Linked DNA regions of Homo sapiens: all the other regions are linked to region 4. Evidence: fine-mapped expression QTL. A gene starts in region 4. Each other region holds a variant in brackets. All regions are shown on one strand. Distances are between the middles of the regions. Region 1 overlaps RNF144A (ring finger protein 144A). Region 2 has its middle 130 kb from the start of GRASLND. Region 3 overlaps RNF144A (ring finger protein 144A). Region 4 holds the start of RNF144A (ring finger protein 144A).

What was found. PIP is the estimated chance that this variant, and not a neighbour inherited with it, causes the effect.
Region 1: its variant is fine-mapped to the expression of RNF144A in unexposed skin (GTEx, PIP above 0.99).
Region 2: its variant is fine-mapped to the expression of RNF144A in whole blood (TOPMed, PIP above 0.99).
Region 3: its variant is fine-mapped to the expression of RNF144A in cerebellar hemisphere (GTEx, PIP above 0.99). The same link has a PIP of 0.9 or more in cerebellum, left ventricle and tibial nerve.

The regions. Positions count from the first base shown.
Region 1 is chr2:6,991,482-6,994,186 of GRCh38, forward strand. The region is part of intron 2 of RNF144A (ring finger protein 144A); the gene reads left to right. Among named protein-coding and RNA genes, the nearest start is that of GRASLND, 74 kb to the left of the region's middle. The variant A/G (reference allele first, on the strand shown) is at 1,361.
Region 2 is chr2:7,048,844-7,051,548 of GRCh38, forward strand. It overlaps a transcript of RNF144A not described here. Among named protein-coding and RNA genes, the nearest start is that of GRASLND, 130 kb to the left of the region's middle. The variant G/T (reference allele first, on the strand shown) is at 1,201.
Region 3 is chr2:7,023,060-7,025,764 of GRCh38, forward strand. RNF144A (ring finger protein 144A) reads left to right here. Exons shown (of 9, transcript NM_014746.6): 7 at 1,310-1,457. Among named protein-coding and RNA genes, the nearest start is that of GRASLND, 110 kb to the left of the region's middle. The variant C/T (reference allele first, on the strand shown) is at 1,293.
Region 4 is chr2:6,916,010-6,918,623 of GRCh38, forward strand. RNF144A (ring finger protein 144A) reads left to right here and starts at 1,403. Exons shown (of 9, transcript NM_014746.6): 1 at 1,403-1,613. GRASLND (glycosaminoglycan regulatory associated long non-coding RNA) reads right to left here. Exons shown (of 5, transcript NR_033997.1): 1 at 2,393-2,614; 2 at 841-1,215. RefSeq lists a silencer at 1,243-1,732.

The DNA of each region.
Region 1 (2,705 bases), 76 kb after region 4:
TCTACAAATCCAAAAGGCTCCATCTCATTCAGCTGATGAGGATATACAGAGGAGGTGTAGCACAGTAAATGGCTGTGTCTTAGGGCCACACAGACTGTGACTAAATAGCCCTGTATGTTTGTGCAGGTTACCCTAATCCTCTCCGAACCTTGGTTTACTCATTGGTAAAATTTGAATAATAGCAAACTATCAAAGTCTCAGAGTCATTGTGCAGAGAAATGAAGTAGTATATGCAAATGGCGAACGCAATGTCTGATGTACATTTAACAGTCTCTCTCTCTCATACATACATATATAATATATATACACACACACATACATATATATCTCTCTCATAAATACATATATATATGTATATATAATTGTTGTTATAATTATGGAATAGCTGCTGTGACCACTGTCCAGAAGGCTAGAACATAGTTCCTACCCTTGAATAATGTATCGTCAAGTTGGGGAGGTAAATTCACACATATGTCAGACTTTGAGGGTCACACTTACCCAGAAAGACTGGTGACATGGTAGACCTCCAAAGCCACACTTACCCAGAAGAAATGGGAGTTACTATGAGAGTGTAGGCCAGGGCCTTGTAGACAGGACAGCTGAGTTTTGGTATTGTTGAAGAACGGTGCACTTGGTGGGCTTCGACCCACACAGCCTTGAGTGAGATAGACTTGGTTGGAAATGCTGTTGAGTGGAATGATACTGACCAGTGGTTCTTGGGCTTCATTGTGCATCACAGTCCCTGCCAGGCTCACGGAAACAGATCACTGTGCCGCCCCACCCACCTCCCCAGAGTTTCTGTTTTAATGAGTCGGGGTTGGAGCCCAACCAGTTACATTCCAGCAAGTTCTCAGGTGATGCTGATGCTGGTGTTTAGAGAGCGCTGCTTGCGAAGCCTGGTGGACCACACACAGCAGAGACCCAGAGACGGGAGACAGCGGGGAGACGTGAGAAATCAGAGGAGACATCACACAGCACCAGGACTGATGCTGGGTGTGAAGGGTTTGTAGGGTGTGGAGAACGGGTAAGGAAGGAAAAGGGAGTTAGGCTGCAGAGGAAACATGAGAGTGTCCCAGGCAACTGGAGGAGAGCAGGGACTTGCTGGAGGAAGGCATGAAAGTAAGAGGTGGATGATGACTGGCTGGCAGCTGCCTACCTTTCCAAGGTTTGCTTTGAAGGAGTAAAGGTGGGAAGAATAGGGGCCTACAGAGGTCCGTAGCCCTGGGGCTCAGAGATGGGATAGTTTTGGTCAAATAACCACCTTGGACCTTGCAGGAATCTGCTGAATCTCTCTACAGTGGACTATTTTCTCTTCCAGCTCTCTCTTATCCTTGTGTCCACACCTCTTTCATCACAAGGC[A/G]CAATCCTTTGCACGGTCTCAGTCATGCTTAATAAGTAAATTGCCTTATGCACATTTTGAATTGCTTAAATTGAATAATACTTATAATTGACCAGATGTTCCTAAAACAGTTTGCCATTTCATATGACTTGACATTCACATTAGGAAAACAAAGACTGTGCTTTCTTTTATTGTGCATTGTGATTCTCTTAGCATAATCTGATTGCAAGTTCGCAGCTGTTCGCTGTTTGCAAAATCATATTAAGGCCATCCTGTGTGTAGGGAAGGTCCATGATGGGTTTAGACAATATAGACCCCTTTTTTTTCTGTAAAATATATCCTGTTGTCACCATTTGAATCACGATTTTGAGCACAACTCAGAGACTGTGTATTCTGTTGGGGAAAGAATAGTGATGTGATTCCTGGAAATGGTGCTGTGACCTGCTTCAAATCCAGCTCATGGGGCTGGCGGGGGAAGTGGGAGGTGAGGGCCATGGGCTGACCTGTGCCCAGGGCAGGGGAAGCCACTGGGGGCCAGATAGAAATCATGGTCCAGGCAGAAAGGAAGTCAGACAGATGGAACCCTGTACGCTGTGCCAGGAGGTCACAACAGAGAGGCAGTAAACAGGAAAAGGAGCCCAGATCTGAAGCTGGAAGGAGAGAGAATTGTCTTGGGAACAAGCACGATGGGGCAGGGCAGAGGTCCAGCACAGAGGCTATAACTGGCTTGTGGGGCAGGGAACTGTTCACGCGGGGTGGAGGTGGGGATTCCAGGGCCCTCTGTGGAGCGGTTAAGCTCTGCCTCTGGGTAATGCGTTCTCGGGTGATGTCCAGGCTGGGAGCATAGTGCATGGCTGTCGATAAGGGAGGAGGCTTTAGGAGGTTTTGATGTTTGATTCTTCTAAAAATTTTCTCCATTGGATTGAACTTCCGAAATGACTAATTTCACCATATGATATCTCTTCCCAACAGCTTGTTTTATCCATTTTGTCTATGTAGGTAAAAGTCTAAGCTTGTTAACCTGACATATCATAATGACTTCTACTTACCAAGCTCCTAGTATCTATATATTAGATATATTATTCTAATATATTGCTTCTTACTTCTCACTCACTCTTCCCAAGTCTACATGAGTGGTGATGGTGATACAGGCTTTACAGAGGGAAAAAACAAAACAACAAAAACAAAAATTGAGTTCACAGAAGTTAAATTTAAGTTATGTGATATCTTCAACATCAGCATAACCAAGTGGCCAAAAAAAAGGAATTTGAAGCCAGGTCTGCTTGACTGCAAAGCGTGAACTCTTTACCCTGCAACTTCCCCAACAGCCCGACAGAACTTGTACCCAGTGCTTTTTCAACATTGT
Region 2 (2,705 bases), 130 kb after region 4:
AGCCAAGTATGAATGCACAGACAGCAGCTAAAACACAGCTGTCTTGGGTGCCACAGGCTCTTCATTGGATACCTACTTTGCAGAAACCCGTGGCAACTGAGAATGATAGAGATGCAAAGCCTCCTAGTCCCTCCTCCCCACCGGGGGCTCAGGATGTGGTGGGATTTACAGTGTAGACAATTACTCTCCTATGAGAGGGTTTGTGGGGCCCTATAGGATCACAGAGGAGGAATGAATGGCTGCACCTGGAGGGAAGGCAGGGCCTGGGGAGGCTCCCTGTGCAAAGGTATCCCTCTGAGTTGAGGGTTGAAGGCTGAATAGTTTTCAGCGGGGGCTGTTGGGGGATGGGCTGGCCTTCCAGGCAGAGGAGGGTAAGGGATGAGAAACAGAGATATGAAGGTACCGCATTTTCAGAAACACTGTATAGTGGCTGAGCACAGTCAGTGCTCAACAAATGTTGCTTGAATGAGCAAATGATGCTTCCAAAATAACTAAGTCCAGGAAGGAGGTGAAATTGGCTGTATATAAATTATTGATCAATGGTAAGGCAATGAATGAGAAATGGCTGATTAGGTAACATCATTCACACTCAGGAGAGAAAACCTCTGGAGATTTTGTTTGCTGATTTCACCTGGCATACAAAATCCTGAAAAACGAGTCTCTTGGAATCCACAAAGGATGAAGATGACAAAAATTCAACTGTGCTCAGCGATTTGAGTTTTCAACGACACGAAAATGAGGTTGCAGTCAGAGTGGATCTTTTTCTCATTTCTGCACAACTCTTAATACATTGTTGGTGCACAATGAATGTTAAATAATAATTTAATGTTTTTATTAATGACAAAGGAGGAATCAACATATTAATGAAACTTGCAGATGATACTAAGCTGGGAGTTATTACAAACACCAATTAGGAGATGAAGACGATGAAGAGGGACCGAGGAAAGAAAGTTCCAACAAAGTGAGCTTCTGTCTTGCAAATACAAGCAAATGCACCTGCAAAAAATGTGTACTGTGGGAAGCTCAGAAGGCGAGGCTAACACAGGCTTAGGAGGGAAAGCAGTCCAAATGCAACGGCTTTTGGAAACGCCAGGGGCAGGATGTGTGATGAAAGTCATAAGAAAAAGCACAATCTCCTCGGCTTTTTCAGTCGAAAATGCATTCGATACCAAGTTTCATTTGGTTGCACGTTGGAAGCTG[G/T]TCATGACTTTGAAGGAAGAACTGTTTGCCTTTCCCAGGAGATGAATTCACGAGTGAGTAGGACCTGGTTCCCTGTCCTCAGTTCGGGTCCTGATATGGTTTGGCTGTGTCCCCACCCAAATCTCACTTTGAATTATAACAATCCCCACACGTCCAGGGTGGCGCCAGGTGGAGATAATTGAACCATGGTGGTGGTTTCCCCATATTGTTCTCGTGGTAGTGAATAAGTCTCAGGAGATCTTATGGTTTTATAAATGGGAGTTCCCCTACGCAAGCTCTCTTGCCTGCCGCCAAGTAAGACATGACTTTGCTCCTCCTTCACCTTCTGCCATGATTGTGGGTCCTCCCCAGCCATGTGGAACTGTGAGTCAGTTAAACCTTTTTTCCTTATAAATGCCTCAGCCTTGGGTATGTCTTTATTAGCAGAGTGAGAACAGACTAATGCAGGTCCTCTTCAGTCTCTCGTGGACACACCTGGGGCCTCCTAAAGTATCTTCTGCTCCCAGCCTCCTCCCTTCTCACCATTCTGTTCCTGGGGCATTCTCTGTTTCCATCTTGTGATGCTTCTGTTGAAAACCATTGAGAGCCTTCTGCTTCCTGTGTCGTTAAATCCAAATTCTTCACCGTTGCCTATATTTCAGTAGCATAAATTCTCTCATATACCTTTAAGGGAATGGAGAGCAACAGTCTTTTGAAAGACAAGCAGATTCTTGGCTCCCTCACTGGCCTCCATGGGGAAGACTTAGGACTCTGTATACCAGCATTGGAGGGGAATGTCGAAGGGAACGGGAGCTCCCAAGGGAGGAAGTGCTGGAATCCCAGTGCTGTCAGGACCACTCAGACCCCGTCTATATTTATAAACAAGGAGAAGCTCAGTGAGGCAGAATGCCTCGGGTGCAGTCTTGAAGCTAGTTCCTGGCAGGGCTTGGACTGAAGTTTAGATCCTCCCTTTTCTTCATCAGTGCCTTGGTACCACACCACACAGACCAATGCAAATGCACGGAGACATCACAGTCTAGTGCGGCAGGCCGGAAGGTGATGATCACACTCCACAGGTGGTAGCAGAGAGGAGCTCCACCCCCTGCAGGAGAAGTCAGAGCAAATTTCTGGAGGAGACGGAATTGGGGTCGGGGATGGAGAGAGCAGGGGGTTGCTCAGAGCACAGATTGGGAGGGAATGCCACCACACAAACACACCCATGCAAGTAAAGCCGCAGACGCCCCAAGAGAGCTTGGCAAACCTTCAGTGCAGAGCTGAGCTCCAGTAGGGTGAGGGGATTGGAGGTGGAGCAGGTGGACGGGGTAGAGCGGTAAGGGACAGAGGGGATGCACTTTTTAAGGTTTAAGCCAGGCTGGAGGATTTCAGGTTAAGGTTGGTGCTGACACAATAAGATATGGGATTTGCCTACGCCACGGTAGCTGCATGTAGGGGAGCTTGGATGCAGAGGATGAGGGCCAGGACATGAGGTTAGGAAGCCGCCAAAAGGAGCAGCGAAGAGGAGATGG
Region 3 (2,705 bases), 110 kb after region 4:
GAGATCGATGCTATTAGCCTTATTCATCTGGTTTGCAGATGAGACACGTAACACATAAATCGCACAGCTAGGATCTGTCTGTCTCAAGACTCTGTGCTCCTAATTAGGAGGACATACTGCTTCTCTCATTATTTCTTACTCTGTTGCCTTCTACTAATGGACCAAACAGTCACGTTCAGTTGGAATGTGCACCCCAAGTGGAGGATTGTTCACTGCCAATCATCAGACAGCTCCTACTAAAGTGAAACTACATTTAATGCTCATATTGACTGGAAGCTTGTGAGAGATCCTTCAGCCAGAATGCACTCAAAAAGCCAGAATTTGCTCAACTGCCGTGAATATATACCCATACATGTGTTAAATTCTGAAAAAGCTGCCCCGAGAAGGAGGGATGCATTTTCTCCTGCTGATGTTTGTTTGATATAGTGAGTTCCAACAATATAGCAAATGGACCCCCATAATCAGTGATAACTCCTCTTAACAGTTTATCATTTATTCCTTCAGATGCTTTTCTGAATATTCTTACCCATCTTTTAAAAATTAACAGCATGGGGTGAGTCATACCTAATGTCTGTGTTATCTTTCTTTAGCAACATTGAACTACTGCTACCCTTTATCAAGCACTTCATAAAAGCTGCACCCTGCGCTGTGCTCTTGGCACACGGAATCTTTTCTCATGGTCACACTGATGAGAAAACTAGGGCTTGGAGGGTTGCTCCACAGCTGGTTTGTAGCAGACCCAGCTCTGACCTCAGCTTAAAGCCCTTCTTGCTAACCCTGCAGACCTAGCCAACTTCTGAGGAAAACAATTCTGTAAGAAGAGCCAGGTGGATCTATCTCAAGTAAACAGTGTGTGTTTGTGTGTGTGTATTTGCAACATTTATTTATTTTTCTTATAACAGCAAAGTACATAAAATTTATATCAACCCTTTGGAAAGTAGACAGCTCTGTGAATAAGGATACAATATTTGACCTTAACACTATGATTCAGATACCTCCGTTATAATAAGCCTTTCGCTGTATTTTCTTTTGTTTGTATACATATATCTCTAAATTTAGATATGTGTTGATGTTGCTGTAATTTTTTAAAAATTTTTCCTAACTCAAAGTGGCTGATTCACAGTGTTCTGGTTAATTTTTTTTTTCTGGAGTTTCTGTTTCTTTGTTTTTTGGTTTTTGTTTTGTTTTTTCATTTAATACCAAGAAAACTCAGTCTGTGAAGTGGAGCCGATGCTTCCAGCATAGCCAGTGCTCCTGGGTCTCCCGTGGGATCCGTTTGTGCAGAGTCCTCA[C/T]GGCGTTTCTCCCACAGTGCTGCTTTCAAAATGGAAGAAGATGACGCGCCCATCAAGCGCTGCCCCAAGTGCAAAGTCTACATCGAGCGAGACGAAGGCTGCGCGCAGATGATGTGCAAGAACTGCAAGCACGCCTTCTGCTGGTACTGCCTGGAGTCTCTGGACGTGAGTACGGCCTTCAGCTTCACCTTGCGGCATTTAGCTTTGAGGTTTAGATTTGGAATGAGAAAAATAGACCAGCTGTTTCCTAAAGAGCTTGGTGCCTACTCCTGTGTAACAGTGAAGCAACACCGTTTGGTGTTTCTCCTGGGTTTGTGAAAACATTAACTCATGAGCGCCATGGGGACAGAAGCCTTTGTGACTCGTATAGTCCTGGGGTCTAAACACTTCATGCAGGTTCAGGATCCAGCCTGGGATTTAAAGGGGTTTTAGCATCTTAGGTTTTGTCTAAGCGGGGACTGTCATTGTCAGTTTGGGCTGCTGTGACATAATATCATAGATGAGGCAGGTTAAATGACAGACATTTATTCCTCATGGTTCTGGGGGCTGGAAATCCAAAATCAGGGTACACCAGATTTGGCTCCGGGGTTCCTGATCAGGACTCCTTCCTGGTGTTCAGGATAGTGAGGACAGACAGAAGTGGGGGCTGGGGGGCTGTTGGGCTTGGGGCCAGTCTTAAGACTTCATTGACACTCACATCATCTACAGGGCGGGAAAACGTGCAAGCCCTTTGCTCTCTGGCAGAATGGAAGTTCTGGTCTCATACGGCAGCCTTCTCCTAAGTATGCTCTGCTTCAGTGTTTCTCAAACACACCCTACCGTGTGTGCCTGCAAGAGCCATGTCCCTGACGGGAGGGCACAATCTCCCAGGCCCACACGTCTCTGGAGCTTTGAGGCCTGATGCACAGGTTGCTGCTATTTAGCTTCTCATTCTCCTTCCTTGCCCATATTAGGGCGTGGGCATCTTGCCAAAATGATGAAGCTATGATTTTAGTTTTAGAATAATTTATTGATGCATACTTTTTTAAGAACTATAATTAGGCCAGCCTCGGTGGCTCACGCCTATATTCCCAGCACTTTGGGAGGCCGAGGTGGTCAGATTACCTGCGGTCAGGAGTTCAAGACCAGCCTGGGCAACATGGTGAAACCCTGTCTCTACTAAAAATACAAATTATCCAGTCATGGTGGCATGCACCTGTAGTCCCAGCTACATGGGAGACTGAGGCACAAGAATTGCTTGAACCTGGGAGGCGCAGGTTGCAGTGAGCTGAGATGGCACCACTGCACTCCAGCCTCGGCAACAGAGTGAGACTCCATCTCAAAAAATAAAAATAAATAAATAAATAAAACTATAATTAAATAGCAGGCCTATTTATCTGTTGGAACCATTGTAGCTAGGACAGTCCAAGCAAA
Region 4 (2,614 bases):
CATTTTTCTTGAATAATGACATTTCTAAAAAGAATCTGAAACTGAGGCATTAGAAGGCAAGTGCTCGTTCATATATTTGAAGAGGTCAAATATTTACCAGAATAACTTCTCAATACAGAGGGGACAGCTTTATTTTATTTTACTATAAAGATGTATGTGTAGCAGAAGACAAATTATGCAGAGCTTTGAGTTAGTTAAGAATCATCTGATTTAATTCTTTGGAGAAATGAGACAAATTGTAGCTAAGGACTATGGAGTTGTTTTAGTTTGCCAGTTATATTTAATTTGACTATTTCTTTATTTATTGAGAGACAAAGTCTCACTCTGCTGCCCAGGCTGGAGTGCAGTGATGCAAACACAGCTCACTTCAGCCTTGACCTCCTGGGCTCAAGCAGTCCTCCTGCCTTGGCCTCCCAAAGTGCTGGGCTTACAGGTGTAAGCCATGGCACTTGGCCTATTTGACTTGTTTAATCCCTCCGAAGAACTCATACATACTATTGCCACCTCATTTTCCACGTAAGAAAATGGAAGCACGAAGACCTTAATAACTTGCTTAATGGCTAGTAGGTGGTAGAGCTTGAATTTAGACCACACAGTGTGGAGGGTATGCTATTAAGGAAAAACGATGTTCTAGTGGGGTTTCCATTTAATATTGCAGAAAAAAGAATCTATATATTTAAGAAGGTGTTATTTCATGCACACTCGTAGGTTTTGTTCATATATGCACATCTGACGTATAATTTAACATTTGTGTAACTTCAAGCTTCTATGGGGAGTGGCAGAAGATGCAGGAATTCTATTAATACCTTCGCAGATCTTAGATTCCAACAAGCTGGATACCTTAAGAAAAATAAAGAAATTGCTGTGCTTGGATCCCAGATGTCCATTCCACCTTTTGGGACCTCCCGGGGGGCCCTCTTTTCTTCATCCTTCAAGACAAGGATAGTGGGGTGAACAGACAGACTTTCCTTGCGAGGGTTGGCTCAGGAAGGCTCTGGGCTCATCTCACAGCCGCCCCAGCGAGGGTCGGGGAGGCAGGTGCTGGCTCCGGTGGGGTCTGCGGCAGAGCAGGACTGGAGCCCAGGGCGCAGCTGCACAGCTCAACGCCGGTTCGCGCCCTGGTTTACAGCGTTGGGCTGGGTCACCCCTTCTTTCCTAGCTTGCTGCTGTGTGTTCCCTCGGTGTAGGAATCAGGGGAGTGTCTTCTGGAGGCCACTAAAGCAGGAATAGCATTTTCATGTTAGCGTGCACGGGCGGTCTCCGCAGCCCCTCCTCGTGCCGGAGCCTGTCCTGGGGCCTGCGGGGCGGCTCCGGGCCTCGGGCCGGCGCAGGCGGGCGGCAGGGGGCGCTGTGCGGCTCGGCGCGGGGGCGGGGCCGGGGCCGAGCCTCCCGCGTGCCCGGCCTCTGTGCGCGCTCGCGCCCCGCCCGCGCAGCCGCTTCTCCCCGCGCGGGCTCTCGGCAGGCGGGAGGCGGCAGGGCTGGCATTGCAGTGCGGGCCGTGCGGGCTGCGCGGGCGCGGGGAGGCGCGGGCGGCAAACTGCGGGCACCCGGCACCCCGCAGCCAGTACCGGGCGGAGGCGTCAGAGCCGCGCACCGCGGACGAGCAGGCCCAGGTAGAGTGACGCGCGTCCCCTTTGTGTCCGCATCGCCCGGGCCGGCCGCGGAGCGGGGAGGGCGGGACGCGGCGCTGCGCGGCCGGCCTTGGGGCTCGGGGCTTGCGGCCGCGCCTGCCCCGCTGGGTCCTGCCCCGGCGCCCGGTGGCAGCGGGCGGGGGGCAGCGTCCCGGGCGGGGACTCGCGGGCTCCGTTCAGAGGACGCCCGCCCTGCCCTGCCCGTGTCCCTGACCTCGTCCCTGCTCTGCTCCTGCCCTGCCCTGCCTCTCGCAGGCGGCGCCCGCGCCCCAGGGCAGTGGGCGCTTAGGGACCTGGCGTCCCCCTGCCTGCCCTGCGCGGTCGCGGGTCTGCGCTGCGGCGCGGGACAGGGCGCCCCGGGCCAGGGTCCCGCGGGCGAGCTGGCGGCGGGGGCTTTCAAGGTTCGCGGCCCCGCCCGCAGACCCTGGGGCTGGAGCCTCGGCCCCAAGAGGAGGTCTGGGAAAGGACGACGCGTCCGGGGCATCGCCACCGGCGGGGAAGGTCGGAACTGGCCAAGAGGATGCCCCGCACATCCCCTGCGCGCGGGGTCCGCGGCTGCTACTGCCCCTGGTCCCCACCGCGAGCCCTTTCCCGGGGAATGAGCCGCCGCCCGAGCCCCGGAGTTCCCTGCGGGTCTTACCCACCCCAGCCTCCGGCCGCCGACCCCAAGCCCCCTGCACTGTGCTTGGCTCCCAGCTGTTTGGTCGCTTATGCCATCCTGGAGGCTTCCTGGTCCTGGGGTGAAGGGGTGACTTCTTTACCCTAATGGTCTTCGTAGGCAGGTCTCAGGATGTCCACTCCAAAGTTCGTGGTCTTTTTTCTAGAGAATAATAATTTTTAAAATCCATTGAACTGGCCGGGCGCGGTGGCTCACGCCTGTAATCCCAGCACTTTGGGAGGCTGAGGCGGGCGGATCACGAGGTCAGGAGATCGAGACCACGGTGAAACCCCCTCTCTACTAAAAATACAAAAAATTAGCCGGG